Regions from separate parts of the Homo sapiens genome. Here region 2 is linked to region 1. The links come from fine-mapping of genetic effects on gene expression. Tissue or cell type: lung. Region 1 holds a variant in brackets; the other region holds the start of a gene. All regions are shown on one strand. Distances are from middle to middle.

Region 1 (4,156 bases):
AAACTGTCTCCGTGAGTACCGACTATGGACTTGGCATGAGAATGTGGAGGTAATGACTCAGACCCGGCTCCTCCCTGCGCTGGAGTCCTCCCCTCCTCCAGGGCCTGACACATAGTAGATGCCCGAGAAATGCCAGAAGTGTCTGTGTTATAGTCAGGGCTCAGGGCCAGTGCTCCAGAGGGCTGCAGGTATTGGGTTTGCTGTTCTGAAGTCCGAATGGTGTTATCTTCAAGTCTGTGTTTTTGTGTTTTGTTTTTTTTTTTAAATGGAGTCTCACTCCGTTGCCCAGGCTGGAGTGCAGTGGCACTATCTCGGCTCACTGCTACCCCTGCCTCCTGGGTTCAAGTGATTCTCCTGCCTCAGCCTCCCTAGTAGCTGGGATTACAGGCATGCGCCACCACGCCCAGCTAATTTTTGTATTTTTAGTAGAGACGGGGTTTCACCATGTTGGCCAGGCTGGTCTCAAACTCCTGACCTCAGGTGGTCCACCCACCTTGGCCTCCCAAAGTGCTAAGTTTACAGGCGTGAGCCACCATGCCCGGCCAAGTTTGTGTTTTGTGAGTGAAGTCTGACGGGACAGTGCATATGTGTGGGGGTACTTGGTGGGCGGCTCTCACATGGTCCTGCCTCCTGCCGCCTTGAAGCCTCCTGGGATCTTGGCCTGCTGCTCTCCTGCCCTCTGGCTTCTCAGCCCCACCCCCACCCAGCTTTCTTCTCCTTCCCCTGCCCATGGACAGCCGCTGGCCTCCCTCCAAGCCAGAGCCTGGGAGCAGGCAGGGCTGAGGTTAGGTGCTTATACTCCACCATGTCTTGGGGCGAGGCAGCTGTCCCCACCCTGGGCTGGCAGTGCCATAGAGCATTCCAAGGGTGATTCAGAGGGAAAAAACCTCTCACTCAACTAGTGCGTTTCAGCATGGAGGTTGCAATACTCTTGTCTACCCTGGATGGGGCCAGCAGGCCTGTGGGAGGGGTGCATGCTTGGCTCAACTTTCCAACTGTCACTCACAGCATGGTTTGTTTGGCCCAGTGGCTGGCAGGAGGGGGATCCTGGGTGCTGGTGGAGCCTGTGTGTACGTGCCAAGCTAAGGAGCAGGGACCCTGGGGCCTGGGAGGGCCTGCACTCATCCCTCAAGTCTCCCTGGGCATGAGGAAATACAGTAGCAAATAGAAAACACTGGCCGGGCGCGGTGGCTCACGCCTGTAATCCCAGCCCTTTGGGAGGCCGAGGTGGGCAGATCACCAGGTCAAGAGACTGAGACCATCTTGGCCAACATGGTAAAACCCCATCTTTACTAAAAATACAAAAATTAGCCGGGTGTGGTGGCGGGTGCCTGTAGTCCCAGCTACTTGGGAGGCTGAGGCAGGAGAATCGCTTGAACCTGGGAGGCGGAGGTTACAGTGAGCCGAAATCGCACCATTGCACTCCAGCCTGGTGACAGAATGAGACTCTGTCAAAAAAAAAAAAAGAGAGAAAGGAAAAGAAAAGAATAGAAAGGAAGGAAGGAAGGAGAGAAAGAAAGAAAACACCATAACAGGTTTTAGAGCATCCTCAGGGAAAAGGAAAAATGTTATATTTTAGTACCTTTAGCAACATTTTTTTTTTCTGTTTGAACAAGGGACCCGGCATTTCCTTTTTGCATGAGGCCTTCCTCATTATGCAGCTGGTTTTGGTGGAGTATGATAGAAAAAGCAGGAGGTTTGGATTTGGAAGAGTCTGCAAGCTCCTTCACCTCTTCAGGCCTTGGTTTTCTTATCTGTAAATGGGCTTCCT[G/T]CCTTCCTTCCTTCTTATCTGTAAATGGGACCATGCTCTCTCACACCCCCGCTTTGCCTTGAACTTGGCATTCCATAAACATGATCTTGCTGGCTGCTTGGAATGCCATGCCCTTTCCTCTACTGTCAAAACTGAAATCTCTGCTCTGGCACAAGCTTCCTTGGAGTCCTCAGTCAGAATGAATCTTTCCCTCCCCGTCTCTCCCCGCCGGTCTCGCCTCTCATTGCAGTTAGCCGTGTGCTTCTCTGCACAGAGGTGTTCTTGCTCCTCACTCACTCTGACTTCCTCATCTCTGTATCCTCCATGGCCCCTAGCATGGGGCTTGGCCCATAGAAGGCGTTTTTTGAATGCATGTCTTATGTCTTAATTTCTCTGCTAGGCCCCAGCTCTGCTGGGTGGTCAAAGTTGACTTCTTAGGGACGCCAGAGTTTCATGGGCCTTAGCTGGTGCTCAGACATGGTGCTGGTCTTCGCTCCCTGACCTGTGTATTGGATACTGGGTCATTCCTTGTTTCTGTCCACATCTGTGCTGCTGTTGCACCTGGGAAACAGTCTGCGTCCATCCTATTGTGCTGTGTGGGGACTGCTCTATGACGGTGTCCAGGTCTCTGTTCTCTATCTGGGCCCCTCTTGGGCCTAGGCTTTGTCACGGCCCCTAGGTCTAGGGAGTGCTGTGAGCTGGCATCTAGCATTAACCATTGATTGTCTCTATCTGGCTGCACCTGGGATCATGATGAAGACAAAAGGGACAAGGTCTTGAATCAATGGTTAGAAGTAAACAAGTAAATAAAACAAGAATCAGAGCCATCCTCACTTATTGAACACCTGTTTTGTGCCTGACTGTGTTCTGAAGGCTTTACATATATATATATATATATATTTTATTTGTCTTCTTTTTTGGAGACGGAGTCTCATTCTGTCACCCAGGCTGGAGTGCAGTGGCGTGATCTCGGCTCACTGCAACCTCCACCTCCTGGGTTCAAGCAATTCTCCTGCCTCAGCCTCCCGAGTAGCTTCGGGATTATAGATATGCGCCACCACGCCTGGCTAGTTTTTGTATTTTAGTAGAGACAGGGTTCCACCATGTTGGCCAGGCTGGTCTCAAACCCCTGACCTCAGGTGATCCGCCCACCTCTGTCTCCCAAAGTGCTGGGATTACAGGCATGAGCCACCGTGCCTAGCCGGCTTTACATATATTAATCATTTAATATCCACAGTAACCCTCCGAGGCAAGTACCAGTACTATCCCCATTTTATAGATTGGAAGATTGAGGCATATACAGGTTGTGTAACTTGCCCAAGGGTGCATGGTTCGTAAGTGAAGAAGCTGGCATTTGAATCCAGGTATCCAATTATAATGCAGTGTCACTCAAGGGCTTTCAGGACCTGGAGGTTCTTAGCGAGCACTGGATCCGTGCTATCTTGTAGGAATGAACCCAGAGAGGGAGAGTGCTGTGCCTTACATCACACAGCAGGCCAGAGGGAGCCTAAAATGGAGTCAGCCTCCAGATTCCAGCTGGACACTCTTCCCATTGTTTACCCCTGCCTGCTTTTGAGAGAGCCCGGGGGCCATGACCCCAGGATTCAGGGGACGTGGGCCATGAAGATGGCCCTGGCAGGCAGAGGGCTACAGAAACAGGGTGATGGATTCTAATGAATCCATCTGGAGAACACCTGGAGAAGTTCATTCTGATGAACACCTGGAGAAGTTTCATGTGAGAGGCAGGCACGGGGTTGTGAGAGGCAGGCATGGGGTCAGGAGAGGAGTCATCTACCAGGCCCTGGAGTGTGGGCTGTGGAGATGGAGGAGGTTCTTAGACTGGAGTTGCCCTTCAGTTCTGTAGGGGAAGAAATGAGGTAGCTTTGCATGGGGAAGGATTCTCGAGTCCCTTGGGGAGACCAGGAGGTGACTTCGCTTTCTGCCTTGGAAACCTTCCTCAGAGACCTGGGGCCCTAGAGGAAGCCACAGACACATTTTGGGAGGGGCCGCAGACTTCTAGGGAAGCTTTGGTCATGGGGAGTGTGCAGTGTTTGGGAGTGGCCACAGAAGACGTCTGGGGGGCAGTGGGATATGCAGATCCAGAGCTAAGGGGAGAGGCCTGGGCCAGAGGCAGAGCCCTGGCAGTGGTTTGTGGGCTTGGAGTTCAGTGTGGACCCTCAGAGGAGAGAGTGAGTATAGAGAGGCAGGCAGCTCCTGGGAAGCCGCTGCTTTATAGAGGAGGGAGGAGAGGAGGAGCTGGAGGACAAGACAGAGGTGAAAACGCCTGAGGAGGCAGAGGAGCCAGGCCGTACTCTCCCCAGAAATGGCATCAGGTGTGGCATGAAGGGCCAAGGGCTAGGTCAGGTCAGGGCAGAGCAGGGCATGAAGTGGTAGGAGATACTTCTG
Region 2 (4,156 bases), 51 kb before region 1:
CCCTTTCTTCAATTAAGGACAATTCTTCTGACGCAGGAAGTTAACTCCCACCAGTTAATCTAATGGCCTTGAGTTTTGATGTGTTTGCTCTGTCAGAAGGCTGGGCTGGAACTTCCTTGGCAGCTGGTAACAGTCAGTGCCTTCAGGGGCTGCCTTAGGGGCGGACAGAGGCTGGGGTGAAGGTTTAAAGAGGGGAACCATGGATCTGGGCCTCTGAGTCGTGGTTTTCAGGGGACAGATCTGGCTTACTGTCTTCCCATCTGAGAAATGGGGTGTGGAGTGGTCTGGAGAGATGAGTTCTGAAACTCCCATCAACTTGGCACCTCCCCTTAACCGCTCCACCCAGGCCCTTCTGGGTGACTAGTTTAGGGTTTGTGAGGACTAAGTGGTGGGAGGGGAAGGGGTCTGGGTGCCCACCCAGGGAGCATCTGTCAGCAGGTGTTTGCCTGTGTTTGTGTGTACGAGTGTGCCTACACACACCCATGCATGCATCCCTAAGCACACACAAGCACACACACATACACCCCATGCACACATACCCAGGCACACACACAAACACAACGTGAAGCTGTGCCCAGAAGCAGGAGGGCCCTTGATGCCCTCTGGTCACTGCTGCTACTGTGAGCCAGGGCTGGGGAGGAGCTCAGGCCCAGGCGTGTCCCCTCTGTGGCAGGCGCATTGCTTCTTCTGCAGCCAGCGTTCTGTCTCCTGCGTGACCACTCACACCTACAGACCAGGTGGCCAAGCCTGGACATTGTCCAGGCTATCAGGCCTCTGAAACACCTCAGGGAAGGGTGAGGCCAGTGAGGCCCAGTAGACAAAGCACAGGGGCCTGAAATTGATCCTCCATGACCACAAGCACCGAACTTTCTTAGCCCCCACTTCGTTATGTGTATGCTGAGGATAACGCAATGTAGCTGAGAGAGTACATGAGGGTAAATACCGCCTGTTCAATCAATAGTCCTTGTTATTCTCATCCCCAGTCCCATTCTCATAGTGGGGAAAGGCTGCAGGGTCCATTCCTGCTCTCCCAGCTGGTGACCAATGGCAGGTGCTGGTGAACAGCGTTGGATTCAGGAGCCCAGAGCTTCTGAAATTCTACATCTGTTGGAGTTGGTGCTGTCATCTGGCTCTGGGATCCAGAGCTCTTGGGACTCATGGGTTTCCTGGGAGGTGAGCTCTGGCAAACGTGGATGGTTGTTCTCCCTGGGTGAATCCATACTAGGGAGTTTGGGTAGAAGGCCTTGGGAAGCCCTGGTTTTGTTGGGTGAGGTGTCGGAAGGCAGAGCAGAACTCATGGATGGGACATGCGGGTTGTAGATTTCAGCTCAAACGAGTAAGAACATTCTTAAGGCCAGCACTAGCCAAAAAAAAAAAAAAAAAATTAATAAAAGGAAGAACTCTCACTTAAGATACTGAGCTTCCTGTCCTTGGAGGTAACCAACCAGGAGCTGGAGGACTGCTTAGCAGGAATCTTGTGAATGGAGTCAAAGCCCCAGAGAAGGCACTGGACTGAGAGCCCCCATCTAACCCCATGTGTGCCCTGTTTCCATAGAGGAGCTTGCAGGACCCTGGAGCCTGGACCATGGATGGAATTCTCCAGTTGACCTTTTCCCTGTTAAGTGGAGTGGGACAGGGTGGGTTGGGTGCCTGGCTCTACAGATGGTAACTGGGCTTCAGCCTTACCAATTCCTGGGGGAGGCAGGGCACCCTCTCAGTGGAGGGTTGTTACCTCTCAGGCACCGCCAAATACAATTGGCCATCTCCTGCTCTCTTTTGGGGCTGGACTGTGGATCCCTGCTGCCCCTAAACAGAAGTCATAACCCATATCTCCCCGGACCACAAGGCCTGTCCACTAGAATCTCTGCATCCCGATTTAGGAAGTGGAAGGCGGGTACTGCTCACCACCAGGCCGCTGGGGTCCACAAAGCCTGCTCCAGCCTAGAACCCCAGGTGGATGTGCAAGTGTTTTACTTATCCCTTGAGGGTTAAAATCACGGGAATCCTTTCTCTTTTGAGGTTAGGTCAGACGCCATAAATGATCCAGAACCCCTGGAGCGGGGGCTGATGGAGGGGGTCCCTCTCTTGTCTCTGATCCCAGAGCGACTTTCCTCTTGACTTCGTGGGGGCCTCCCTTGGATCCCTGTCCTCCTTCCTCTCTCCGCTCCCTCTGTCCGTCTCTCCCGGAGCCGGAGCCGGGCTCTGGGTCTCTGGTCTCCTCTGAATTTCTCTCTCTCTCCCTCCACCTCGGCGTTCTGGCCCTAGGAGCGTCTCTCTCCAGCGCTGTCTAATAGTCTGTGCGCCCCTCTCCCAGTCCAGGGCCCCGTCTCTGGCCCGCAGTGTCTCGGGCTGTCTCCGCGTCTCTGAGCCCCTGGGCTGCCGCCCCTCGCGCGCTGCGGTGGCCGCGCGGGCCGGAGCGGAGCGGGCTGGAGCGCGGCGGCCACGGCCCGGGGCGGGGGTGCGGGCCCGCGGGGGCGGCGTTGGGCGCCTTCCTTCGTCAGTCCCTCCCCGGCGGCGCGGGGGGTGGGGTGGGGGGGGGGCGCGGCCGCCGCTCGGCGCCTTTAAGGGAGCGGGAGGGAGCGGCGAGGCGGCGGCGGCTGCGGTGGCGGCAGCCGAGGCGAGCGGGGCGGGGGCGCGGGCGCGGCGCTCGGAGTCCGTTCGGGGCCGGAGGCGGTCGGGGCCGGGCCCGGGAAGCGCGAGGAGCGCGCGTAGCGCCGCCGGAGCCCGCCGCCCGGGACATGGCCAAGGCGGGCCGTGCAGGTGAGGGCGGGCGCGGGGAGGGCAGGGCCGGGGCCCGGGGGAGGGACTCGCGCGTCTAGAGGAGGGGCCGCCGGCCCAGGTGAACCCCTCGCGCAGGTGGGCGGAGGTCCCGGGAGGGCGTAGGGGGCGGTAGCGGGGCTGGACCTCCCGCGCGTGGAGAGGGGGCTCCGCGCGCCCCCCGTCCTTCCTGCGCCCCCGGTCACCTCGGGGGACACCGCGTCCCCTTCTCCACGGCCCCGCCGGAAAGGGCCAGGTCTGCGGCGCCCCGGGCCAGTCCCGCCGTTGGGAGCCCTCTGCACCCCGCGGAGGCCCCGGGCAGACCCGGGCTTCGCCACCGAAGGGGATGTCCCGCGGCCGCCGCTTCGTCCCACACCCCAACGCAAACCGGGACGCGCCCCCTGCTCCTGCAGCTCTCTCCATCCAGGACGCCACAACCCCCCGCCCCAGCCCCCGTCACCAGCTCAGTCCAGAGACCCAGATTCCTTCTCGGGAAGGAGGGGAGCCCCGTGCCGCGCCGGCTGCTGGCCGCCCCGCCCCCTCCCCCATCGACCCTGGGACGCAAAGCCTCAGCTGCGGAGGCCTCTTCTGGGGTCCCGTGGGCTCTGCCCTCCCCCAGGCTCAGACGGTGTAGCCTGTGGTTTGAGGGAGCGGGCATTAGTCATTCGTTCATTCATCCAGCCCGACGTTCATTCACTAGCATCTGCTCTGTGCCAGACCCTGAGCTGGGCACCGGGGCTCAGGCGGACTCAGCCCCCCTGCTGCGCCCATGCTGGGGAGACCCAGGCCCGTGACTCATCGGGCACATTCTGGGCCCGATGGTGCCTTGGGAGGCGGGTGGAGGACAGCTGTGCCCACAGGGCCGGCCATACAGTAGGCGGCAGCAAGCCTGGTCTCGGCAGTGCCTCTTGTGAGGCTGGCGTGTGAGAATCTACCATGAACTCACACCCAACCCGTGACGTTGGCTGGTGCCATGCCGTCCCCCAGGACCGGGCGCGACAGTGAAGGAATGGGTGTGAATACCATCGGGCTGTGTGTCAATCCACCCCCAAGCCCGAAAGCTGCCCGGGACCCTGGGCTGCGGACCCGTCTCCCTGTGCAGGCACTGAGCCTGTAAGATTTAGGTGCCTGAGAATGCACTCCCGTTCTGTCCCCAAGGAGTCCTGTCGGGGTGGGGCCGGTTGTGTGAGGCACAGCCAGTATGGAACACAGCTAAACAGCCTTCTCACTCCCCTCCCTTTTCCCCTCCTGAGGGAGGCACTGTGAGATGACACCAAGGAAGCTGAAAAAGGCTTCTTGCCTCCCTCTTTCCTCCACCGTGCCTGGGTCCTCACCCACCCCGACTCCTTAAAATGGCCTGTGGCAGGGCGTGTGTCCCATCTGCTGCCCTACCCTGTGT

What was found. PIP is the estimated chance that this variant, and not a neighbour inherited with it, causes the effect.
Region 2: it holds the start of PITPNM3, and the variant in region 1 is fine-mapped to the expression of PITPNM3 in lung (TOPMed, PIP above 0.99).

Annotation. Positions count from the first base shown.
Region 1 is chr17:6,503,690-6,507,845 of GRCh38, reverse strand. All of the region lies in intron 3 of PITPNM3 (PITPNM family member 3), which reads left to right. Among named protein-coding and RNA genes, the nearest start is that of PITPNM3, 51 kb to the left of the region's middle. The variant G/T (reference allele first, on the strand shown) is at 1,772.
Region 2 is chr17:6,554,989-6,559,144 of GRCh38, reverse strand. PITPNM3 (PITPNM family member 3) reads left to right here and starts at 2,590. Exons shown (of 20, transcript NM_031220.4): 1 at 2,590-2,760. The coding sequence starts at 2,739. RefSeq lists an enhancer at 3,679-4,156.